Linked DNA regions of Homo sapiens. The protein of the gene in region 2 interacts with the protein of the main gene of each other region in a biochemical or structural test. Each region holds a gene or a part of one and is shown on either strand. Other genes may lie near its edges. The genes, in order: MARCHF10, SRPK2 and NCL.

Region 1 (3,749 bases), on a different chromosome or scaffold from region 2:
AAACGGTATTAGTGTCAGACCAAGAAGATGGTGGGTTACCTCAGTATAAGCAAACATTCTCTGTGTTTGCTTGAAGTTCATACTGCACTCAGTCAGTTTGAAAAACTGACCAGGATGAACAAGAAACAGAAATAACAGTATGGAAATAAAACTACATGAGATAATGCTTAATTCATGGATCTCAGCTTTGTGGGCCTACTCAACCAGATGGCCACTTGAAGCCAAGAATTTTTCCCCAGCAAACACAGAGGGTTGGGGTGGGGGTGATAATAAAATGTGAGCAAGGCGCATGTTTCTAAAATAGCACTCTGTATTCTCTTCTATCGCTCACCTTTGAACTGCTTCTTAATTTAAAACCCACTCATGGTTATGCACACTTCTGTTTTAAGTCTTTCTGGTGATAATGTCTTGTGCCAAATCTGTGCTTTAGAAATCAACATAAGAAGCCATATTAAGTAGGGAGAGAGAAAGGAGGAGGGAGTTGGAGGCAGGTGGAGAAGGAAGGAGGGGGTCCTGCCTTGCTGAAAGCAAGAGCGAGTAATTCTTCTTGGCCTCAAAATTCTACATATCTGTGAAATTTTAATGGGGGAATATTCTAAGAACTTTGTGACATACACGTTCTTCTCTAGTGTAATTTTCCAGTGAATTCCAACCAAGTTTTCCTGACTGAGGGGAACAGAATCTGATTGCAGAATGTTTTTCAGTGCTCTAAAAGTCATGCATACGTACCATCCCTCTGTTTTATGACCACATTTGTCAAAAGAACTGATTTGAAGGAGCCTGTTCTTAATAACAATCAAAGTCTTATTGGTTTCTTACTATGTTCTCATAAGAGAAAGACATCACTAAAGTTAATATGCTGTTAAGCAATAAAGGAAATGTAAACAATCTAACCTCCTCCTTAGACGGAAGGTTGCTTTGAAATAAAATCTAAATGGCTATTGTTAATACCGGACAATCAGGCTCGAAAATTACTCCCTTTCCACAATTAGGTGATTGGAGAAGGATTTCAGGAGACCTTATTCAACCTTTTCCCCAATTGATTAATTTGTAATGTCAGACATTATAGGATTTGTTTAAATCTTAGCTCTAAAAAAAACTTTGCATTTTAAAGTCTTAGCTTATAAACATGTCTTGAGTATAAGCAACAAAGTTTACGATTTGGGCCCAATTTAAGAATACTGTGACTGCAGAGAAAAAGGGGGAATTGGTTGGGAAAGGTAAGGAGATCTTTCAACTCTTCCAGCCAATTTGGCTTAAGAGTTGGGGGCGGGGTGGAGGGTGGGGAACAGACTTGTGTTTGGCGGTGACTCTTCATTTTACTGTGAAACTAGGAGAGATAGGTGGTCACATTTCGACCATCAAGCCCAGAAGAGAGGAGAAACTCAACGTGTAATTGGGAAACTCTGGGGGAGGAAACGTCACAGGTTTGACAAGCAATTCAGTGCCATCATTAATAACAATATCCAGCCAGAGAAACATAACGAGACCCCTTCTTTACAAATAATTTAAAACATTAGCCAGACATGGTGTTGGCCTGTGGTCCCAGCTACCACCGGGAGGCTGAGGCGGGAGGATCGCTTGAGCCTGGGAGGTCGAGGCTGCAGTGAGCCCTGACTGCACCGCTGCACTCCAACCTGGGAGACAGAGCGAGACTCCTTCTCAAAAATAAACAAAATCAATATCGACCATTTCGCATTCAGAAGCCCAGTGGGCCATGGTCTGTGTATACCTTTTCTGACCAGTGGCGTCTGCAGGAAAGAATGTGGGTGCCAGTGAGCAAAGGTTCACGGTCTCCCCCAAACCTGTCCCTCTGAGACAGAAAAATGCTGGGGCTGGGGTCAGCCGAGGGGAGGGGACGGCCAGGCCACCGGATGTCAGGCCCGGTTTCCCTCCAGAATCTTGTAAGTCGAAAGGGAAGGTTGTCCCCCATCCTGGGAGAACTGGAGCGGAGCGGCGGGGGCGAGGGGGCCGTTACCTGTGGGTCTGCCCTTCCTCCCCTGCCGGGGCTACAGGGGTCGAGGGGCTGGGCGGGCGGGCCGGTCCAGGGCGCAGGAGCCGCCCATTAATTGCGCGGGGACGGCCCTGAGCTCCTCTTCCTCCTCCTCTTTTTGCTTCTTCACTCCCTACACCTGCCCCTCTTCCTCCTCCTTCCCCGAGGCTGCTTTCCGCGGCGCCGGCCGGCCTTGCCTGGGGCGGAGGCGGTGGGGGCGGCTACCGGGCGTCCTCCGGTTTCCCTAGCAACCGCGCCTCCCCGCCCCCGCGCGACCAGGTGCAGCCGCCGAGAGCACGGGGCGGGGCGGGGCGGGGCTGTGGCCCCGGGGTCCCAAGCCAGTCGTGGGCGCCCGCCGGTTGCCGTGGGAACGAGGCGGGCTGCAGTCGGGGAGTCAGAGCCACGCTGGTGGGCAGAGAAGAGATGCCCAAGGAGGAGGCGGTTGGCTTTGTCTGGGTGCCCAAGCCCAGACCCAGATATCCAGGCCTCTGCTCCCTTCCCTGAAAGGGTGCTGTGCTTCATAAAAAATGAGATTAGAAAACGAGAGAGGAAAATATTTTTAATGGAATCAGGGAATGTGAAAAGCGGTACATGCGAAGAGGAAAAGATACTGCAGTCCTGGAGTTCGACCTCTGCAGAGGACATCTGGAATGCTCTGGTCCAACACGAAAAAGAAGAAATAAGCGATGAAGCCAGGCACCCAGTCAGTGGCAGAACCGACATTAGAGCCCAGGCCTCTTCGTAATCAGTCGTCTTCACCCCCTTTCCAAGGAGAGAGGTGCTTAGAGGCCTAGACCAGGCCCTACAGCTTTGGAGCCAGGGCACCAGAACCGCTACTACCCTCACCTTCTCTGTGCCAGGTTGATTTCTTTCTTTTTCTTTTCTTTTCTTTTCTTTTTTTTCTTTCTTTCTTTTTTTTTTTTTTAGACAGAGTCTTGCTCTGTAGCTCAGGCTGGACAGTGCAGTGGCACGATCTTGGCTCACTGCAACCTCTGCCTCCGGGGCTCAAGCGATTTTCATGCTTCAGCCGTCCGAGTAGCTGGGATTACAGGCATGCGCCACCACACCCGGCTAGTTTTTGTATTTTTTTTTTTTTTTTAAGTAGAGACGGGGTTTCTCCATGTTGGCCAGGCTGGTCTCGAACTCCTGACCTCAAGTGATCCGCCCGCCTGGGCCTCCGAAAGTGCTGGGATTACAGGCATGAGCCACCTTGCCCGGCTTTGCCGGGTTGATGTCTGTCTGTGGTTCTCATGGGCAAAGATGACTCCCCTATTTACTTTGCATATTTAGGCTCTCAACTTGTCAACTGATGTCAAGTTAGGGTATTTTTGATTGAGTGGAGAGTAAGGTAAAGGAAGAATAGAAATTCTTGGAACTTTCATCAGTGCCCGGAATCCCTAGGTGTCTGTGGTTTGACCGTCTTCTCAACACCTCCCCTTCCCCCCATTCAGTTGGTGCCAAGTCCTTGGCAGCGTCACATTCTTCTTTCTATTCTTATCACTCTAGTTTTGGGCTCCATGACCTAGTTTTGGGCTCCATGGATTATTCTGAGGGCCTCCTGGTCACACCCTGGGCGCCTGTCCTCCACACCCTATCTTCACCATTTCCCCCATCCTATAAGCAGCCTACATCTAATGTTGCTGGCCCCCTGCTTAAAAAGCCCTGAAAGGTTCCTCACCGCCTGTGGAATGAAGTCCAAACTCGTCACTATGACTTTCCCTGTGCCCTCCCCCACAGTTTCCTTTCTTGGTTTTTC
Region 2 (3,649 bases):
GGCGTGGTGGCATGTGCCTGTAGTCCCAGCTACACCAGAGGCTGAGGTGGGAGGATCACTTGAGCTTGGGAAGTGGAGTCTGCAGTGAACTATAGTCCTGCCACTGCACTTCAGCTTGGGGAACAGAGCAAGACCTTGTCTCCAAACAAACAAACAAAACCCTCAAAGACTATATATAGGCTTTACCACCAAGAACCATCTGTGGCCTTATGACAGCTTGGTATTATGAGGTCAAATTTAATATATTAAATGTCCTATTTTTACACTACAACAGAACGATGAGGTAAGAAAAACTGCCTCATTGCTCCTAGGTTCTCTAGGAGGAACAAAAGAAACCTCTAAAGCCATGACTTTTGGGGGGTGGGGCAAGCAGTGAATGAGGGCCTGCCCCTTTCCAAAAAAAAAAAAACCTCCCTTATGACAACCAACTGAAAAAGCAAACCTCATAAGCCGTCCTGACAGCACTGAGGGAGCTTATGCTTAATTCTTGGGAAGGGGGCAGGTGAGAAGACAGAAAGGCTTTTCCTTGGGAATCTGTTATTGATATTTATGCCACTGTTCACAGCAATAGCATTTCAAGAAGTAAGCAGGACAGGGAAATTGTATGGAGGGACAAACGTTCATCTAATGGAAGGCAGGTCAGATAACCTGGTATAAAATTGTGCTGAAAGCTCCATTAACCCACTACATCCGTGACTGCGTCCTATTTTTCTGGTTATATCACCAAACTTAATACCCCAAATTAGAAGCACAGCATTTCAGAGTTCAAAGAGTACTTAGCGCCTAATTCGGGGCAGCCCTGCTGCTAGTGGCCATTGTGGTCTAACCTCCCCACATCCTGAAATGGCCCCTGCTCCCCGACTCCCACTCAGTGTCTCCGCAGCTCCCGTTACACTAACTCCCACGTCTCAGTCTGCCTGCTGGGGTCACACAGAGAGGGTCAAATGCCTCTCCACACAGCACTCTCTAAATTCAAAGTGACCATCATTGGCCACCGGTTCTTTTAACCGTTCTTTTCTATACCTAGCTAAGGCAGGGACTTGGTTTTTGATATGGAAGAACTTTAATACCTTTAATAATTTAAACGTTATTGTCTGGTATTATCCTTAAGAGCAACGAGGGAATAGAAAGGCCTGGTGTTTCAGGACCTATCTGGCCATGTGCTGACTCAGATCATGCTGAGTCAAAGCTGAAAGACAGAAAGCACCCTCTTTTTCTCCTATCAGCTGGCACTATCTGCTCAACAATGCTTTTACTTGAGCATTAGAGGAGGTAAAACACAGTAAATTCAAGAAAATTGTTAAATTAACCTCTGAATAACAGAAAATTAATATATTTATTCTGCATTCCTTTTTTCAGTGAGAAGAAAAATGCTAAGCCTTGCACACAATCTTTTCTTTTAAATATTGGAAGAATATGGATAAAAAGCAGTATGGAATAGGAAAAGCATGAAACCCAACAGCAAGCAACCCACCTTTCCCAACACGGAACGCCTAAGTAAATACCACTGAGAAAAAGCTGCTGAATGGGCCAGGAAACAGGGCAGAGGAAGAGAACCAGGAACTGGCTCGCAAATGCAGGGCCCTTTGTGTTCACCAACTCACAGGTTCAGGGTCAATGACCAAACGATGCCAGGCAGGGCCAGGGGAGTTTACAGACAATGCAACTGTGCAGCACAAAACCAGCAGCAAAACAGGCCTGACAGATAGAAGAAGAGGCTTCTGCCGCCCTGTGGAAGCCGTCATCTCAACCACTCTGGGAACAGACTCTGTCAGAGGGAGTGGGCGTTGCTGCCACTGTTTCAGAAGAGGCTAGACATCCTAGAATAAGCCAGAATATCTGCTAGCTCTTGCTTTATAAGGGAAGAGAGATTATGCATTGGCATCTGGGGAAATCCCTTCCAGTCTGGAAAGGTGAGGAACCCTGCATGTCTGGTTGACCAGGCAGAGGCTTACCTGGAGGGGCTCCCACCTGCCCGCCTTAGGCAGTCTTCCCCTGGAGATGCTACCTCATCTTCCTCCACAGTGTGAGTGAAGGGAAAAGCTCCCTATACCCTGCACATTTTCAGGGACCACAAGTGAAGTCACTGTGTCACAACAACTGAGTCTGATTCATGGGGCTGTGGGCTGTGCAGGGCCTTAAGAAGAGACCATGTCTCTCTCACAAGCCCACAACCACACCAAACACCCAGGGCCCGCCTGAGGAGGATCCTTCCACTTCTTAAGATGCCTGCGGCAGCAACCTTCCCCTCACCCAGCCCACGGTGGATGACCCTTACAGTCAGAAAAACTGAGGTCGCATGCCTCAGAGAGACTCAGCCCCATCCAGAGTGTGAAAGGAACGAGCCAATTCCCATGGCAGCAAAGGGCACAGCCGTCCTTACCATACACGCCGTGCTCCAGATGTCCGCAGGGGTGCTGTACCCCGCTCCTATTAAAACCTCTATGGAGCGGTACTGACGCGTCTGGATGTCTTCCGTGAAGTGTTTATGCTGGAAGGGAACAGGCTGCATTACCACGGAGCAACACAGACATTCAAAAAGTGTCTTCGCACACAGAATCAAGACCAAAGGTTTTAGAAAGAAAACTCTACTTACCACCCAACAAGCATTTCCCAGGTCAGCAATTTTTACTCTAATTTTATCTGCATTCCGCGGATCCAGGGGATTCACCAACAAGTCAGCTGCCCGGGTTTTTGCTGGCATGAGCAAACAGCAGGACAGTTAGTGATCGGGATAGGTGGTTTGCATGTGTGAGCACAGTGTTTGCCAGGGTCAGTCTCCTTTCCTCAAGAGTAGTGGAATGATCACTTAGGCCTGGAATACTGTAAATTAAACTTGACAGAACTAAAATTGCTTGTTCTCCACCTCTGGAAAATACTCCAGAAAAGAGCAAACTGGGCTGCCCACAGGACGCCAAGGGCACTGCCTTGACCTTTCTCTTTTTATCCCCAGTTTCTTCGGGTCCAGGTCAGCCCTAGAACAAGCCAGCCTTGCTGTCCCCCTGTCTGCAGCTTTGTGGCGGCTCTTCATGGTGTCAATCCATCCCTTCACGGCCCAGATCGAGCTTGCTGATGCATTATTACAAGGAACATGAAGGTAGAAAGAACACTGCTGTGGGGGCCGATCACTCTCAGTGACACACAGTTCCTTGGACGCCACAAGACATCAGGGTCCCTGGCACCGACACCTCACACCCACATCATCCCCTACAGTTCCCACTGCTTGGGCTGAGCACACACAGATCTCAAGGGGTAGATGACTGTTGATTAACAAACACAGATTAAAGGCAGGGACTAAACTATTCTGGTTTTGTTTTAGACAAGGAAGGTCCCAGACAGAGGTCTCCTGAGATGGCCTGGGCCATAAAGGCAACCTCTGAGGTCAGTCATGAACTTGTCATGTACATGAGCAGTCATTCTAAATTCCAGGATGACTCCAGGGAATCTCAAAGGCAGGTATAGGGCCAGCTTCCCAGAGATTCTGGGGCCAGATCTTCTCAAACAAGTTCAGATCATGCCTGTATCAAGCAGAGTTAACCAAGGGGCAAGTGACAAACAAAAATAATCTGGTGAGGCCCAGAAAAATAGTCCTTAAAGTCAGCATCTTCATCACCAAACCTCAGACTGACCTACAAGATCAGATTTCTGG
Region 3 (3,649 bases), on a different chromosome or scaffold from region 2:
AGGAGTTGTCTTGGTAGTTACTGGGCTTCTGATTACAAGGTATCTTGAGATTCTGGGATCAACATATTCCTTCCACGACAACCTGGAGATGAGATTAGAATCCTTGTGGGAATTCTCTGGGTTGTTGTGGTGTGCTAGACTTAATTACCCATGAATGATTTTTGTGCCTCTTGAGAAAATTTCAATAGCACATTCTATTAGTGTTTTTTATAATGTAGGATTTTGTTTCTAAGTGATTTTTTTTTTTTTTAAATTTTTTTGAGATGGAGCTTTTGCTGTTTCCCAGGCTGGAGTGCAATGGCGCGCTATCTCGGCTCACTGCAGCCTCCATCTCCTGGGTTCAAGCAGTTCTGCCTCAGCCTCCCGAGTAGCTGGGATTACAGGTGCCCACCACCACACCCTACTAATTTTTGTATTTTTAGTAGAGACGACATTTCACCATGTTGGCCAGGCTGGTCTCGAACTTTTGACCTCAGGTGATCCACCCACCTTGGTCTCCCAAAGTGCTAGGATTACAGGCGTGAGCCACTGCGCCCGGCCCCAAGTGATCTATTCTTGCCATGACTGTTAACTAAACATGGTGACAGGATTGCATTTTCTTTACATTAGATTTGAAAACCGATGTTGGTTTTGGGAGATTGCTGCAATTTTTAGGTGACTTCTCTTTCAGACTCTGAAGAAGAAGCTATGGAGACTACACCAGCCAAAGGAAAGAAAGCTGCAAAAGTTGTTCCTGTGAAAGCCAAGAACGTGGCTGAGGATGAAGATGAAGAAGAGGATGATGAGGACGAGGATGACGACGACGACGAAGATGATGAAGATGATGATGATGAAGATGATGAGGAGGAGGAAGAAGAGGAGGAGGAAGGTACTTAAATTAGATTCTGACATACGACATGAGTTATGTTTAAAGGAGGCACTTAAGTGTTTGTGGCTACTGATGTGTGATACATTGTTTGACATCTTGTCCAGAGCCTGTCAAAGAAGCACCTGGAAAACGAAAGAAGGAAATGGCCAAACAGAAAGCAGCTCCTGAAGCCAAGAAACAGAAAGTGGAAGGTAACTTGCAGAATTAGGGGATATGGGGGAGATAAACAGCACAAATGATGAATAACAAAGGGACTTAATACTGAAACCTGATGTTACATTGTAGTGTGCTGATGTGCTGTGTATAGAAATTTTGCTTTGGAAACTAACTTTTTACCACACTACAAGTAGACTGAGTTGAGCTTTTTTTGTGCAGGCACAGAACCGACTACGGCTTTCAATCTCTTTGTTGGAAACCTAAACTTTAACAAATCTGCTCCTGAATTAAAAACTGGTATCAGCGATGTTTTTGCTAAAAATGATCTTGCTGTTGTGGATGTCAGAATTGGTATGACTAGGTAAGTGCTTCACTGCACGTTACATACACGTGGGTCTGTTAATGCTTTTCCTTCCCCTGTTAGCACAGTTACTTTAGCCTGCTACTGTTAAACATGAATACTGTAAACATCTTCAAGGATTAGCATTAGTGAACTAAGTTAGAATTAAACTGTAGATCCCCTAAGTTGCAATTTCCATAATCAGTCGTAACTTGGTATAGCACAGAATAATTTTTAGTAAGTTTTTTTGTTGTTTTTGTTATGTATTGAGACGGACGCTGGCTTTTGCTCAGGCTGGAGTACAGTGGCGCAATCTTGGCTCACTGCAACCTCTGCCTCCCGGGTTCAAGCGATTCTCCTGCCTAAGCCTCCCAAGTAGCTGGGATTACGGGTGCACTTCACCATGCCTGGCTAATTTTTGTATTTTTAGTTGAGATGGCATTTCACCATGTTGGTCAGGCTGGTTTTGAACTCCTGACCTCAAGTGATCCACCCACCTCGGCCTCTCGAAGTGCTGGGATTACAGGCGTGAGCCACCCTGCCAGTAAGTTTTAATAATTTGGTGTTAGGTGGGAGAATCGCTTGAACCTGGGAGGCAGAGGTTGCAGTGAGCCAAGTTCGCGCCACTGTACTCCAGCCTGGGCAACAGATTGAGACACCGTCTCAATTTAAAATAATGTTTATTTTCTTGGAAGTACCTGAAACTATTAGACCTGTCTAGTCATCATAGTGAATACTTTTATCCAGACAGGATTCTCCTGTATTAGTGCTTATAGGTGTTCTTTTGTCAGCTGCTACTGTGAATTCTTATAAGCAATTTAGCTCCATGATGAAGACCTCAAACGTGAATGTGCATGTCATATCTTCATGCTGAGACCTTGTTCTGTAGCTGCAGTTTGCAGAGCCTTGACTTTGTTTTGCTAATACTAGGGGTGCTTTTTAAAATGTGATCTTTGTTTGCACCATCACATTTGTCTAGAATACATATTGTGGATTTTGATTTGTGTTTTCACCTGTTGTAATTTTGCCCTCCTCTCCACCTTGAAGGAAATTTGGTTATGTGGATTTTGAATCTGCTGAAGACCTGGAGAAAGCGTTGGAACTCACTGGTTTGAAAGTCTTTGGCAATGAAATTAAACTAGAGAAACCAAAAGGAAAAGACAGTAAGAAAGGTATGTAAGGCTTTATGAGATTATGCAATGAACTCAGGAGCTAGACTGCTAGGGAAAATGCTTTGTAACCCATTTCCCTTGGTTTCCTCTTATTTTTTTAAATCATTTTTTTCCTTTGGTTTCCTCTTAATGTGGGAATTAAATGAGCTACAGTGTTTACAAGAGTACTTGGCACTGCTTGTCAGTGTTATAGTGTAAATTCCTGAGTTAGGCAAGCAAGAGCACTTTTATACAGAACAAGAATTATTAGATGCACCTAAATTAACGTAAAGGGATCTTTCTTCACTGAAACTAGATTAGGTCCCTAATTACTCCCTATATACAGTTGTAATGTTTTGAATTGGTACATTCACTTTTTTTGTTATGCGCGTCTACTCTAGGTTGAACTCCAGTGTACCTAACAGAGAGTTTGACATCAGCTGTGACAACATGGAGGGACCACTTGTGTGTTGACACTGCTATATCTCCATATTTAGCACCGAGCCTTGTACATTATAGGATCTCAAATTATTTGTTGAATAGAGCTATGTGTGTTTTTCCCCTCTTTTTGTTGTTGCCCCCCACCTTTGGTTTTTCAGGCCACAGAGCTCATTTTTGTTTTTTTAATCTAGAGCGAGATGCGAGAACACTTTTGGCTAAAAATCTCCCTTACAAAGTCACTCAGGATGAATTGAAAGAAGTGTTTGAAGATGCTGCGGAGATCAGATTAGTCAGCAAGGATGGGAAAAGTAAAGGGTATGTTCTGTCTATTGAAATGTAAGGGTTTTATTAACATTAATGCACTTTCCTGCTTTATAAAAGAAATATTGGTTTGATTTCCTTAGGCGTGTAATCTTGGACAGTTTAACCTGTAAGTTTGTGCCTCAGTAACCCATCTGTACCATGGGGATAATGTACTCATAGGGTGATTTTAAAAGACAAGCTAATACTTACAAAGAAGCAAGAAATGTGCCTATCTTACAATAAATACTTTGTAAGTAGTAGCAGTTCTTTCAGTGAGGTGAGGTTACTATGAAAAAATTCCAAGTATTTGTAAAACTAGTGGGAAGTAAGAGGGAAGCTCGAGTTTTGATTGAAAAGTGGCATAAAACTAAGGGCATTTATTGTACTCAG

The links.
Region 1: of the proteins of SRPK2 (region 2) and MARCHF10, one has a biochemical effect on the other in vitro, tested with the Homo sapiens proteins (one large-scale study listed by BioGRID and IntAct).
Region 3: of the proteins of SRPK2 (region 2) and NCL, one has a biochemical effect on the other in vitro, tested with the Homo sapiens proteins (one large-scale study listed by BioGRID).

The regions. Positions count from the first base shown.
Region 1 is NC_000017.11:62,806,099-62,809,847, forward strand, and holds the start of MARCHF10 (probable E3 ubiquitin-protein ligase MARCHF10), read right to left. Parts: upstream 2,217-3,749; 5' UTR 1,979-2,216; intron 543-1,978; exon of another isoform or gene 332-542; intron 1-331. UniProt on the Homo sapiens protein: E3 ubiquitin-protein ligase. E3 ubiquitin ligases accept ubiquitin from an E2 ubiquitin-conjugating enzyme in the form of a thioester and then directly transfer the ubiquitin to targeted substrates.
Region 2 is NC_000007.14:105,130,408-105,134,056, forward strand, and holds part of SRPK2 (SRSF protein kinase 2), read right to left. Parts: exon of another isoform or gene 2,698-3,649; coding exon 2,597-2,697; exon of another isoform or gene 2,492-2,596; coding exon 2,384-2,491; exon of another isoform or gene 1,360-2,383; intron 1-1,359. UniProt on the Homo sapiens protein: Serine/arginine-rich protein-specific kinase which specifically phosphorylates its substrates at serine residues located in regions rich in arginine/serine dipeptides, known as RS domains and is involved in the phosphorylation of SR splicing factors and the regulation of splicing.
Region 3 is NC_000002.12:231,457,888-231,461,536, reverse strand, and holds part of NCL (nucleolin), read left to right. Parts: intron 1-670; coding exon 671-868; intron 869-972; coding exon 973-1,059; intron 1,060-1,094; exon of another isoform or gene 1,095-1,169; intron 1,170-1,243; coding exon 1,244-1,385; intron 1,386-2,411; coding exon 2,412-2,536; intron 2,537-3,147; coding exon 3,148-3,271; intron 3,272-3,649. UniProt on the Homo sapiens protein: Nucleolin is the major nucleolar protein of growing eukaryotic cells. It is found associated with intranucleolar chromatin and pre-ribosomal particles. It induces chromatin decondensation by binding to histone H1.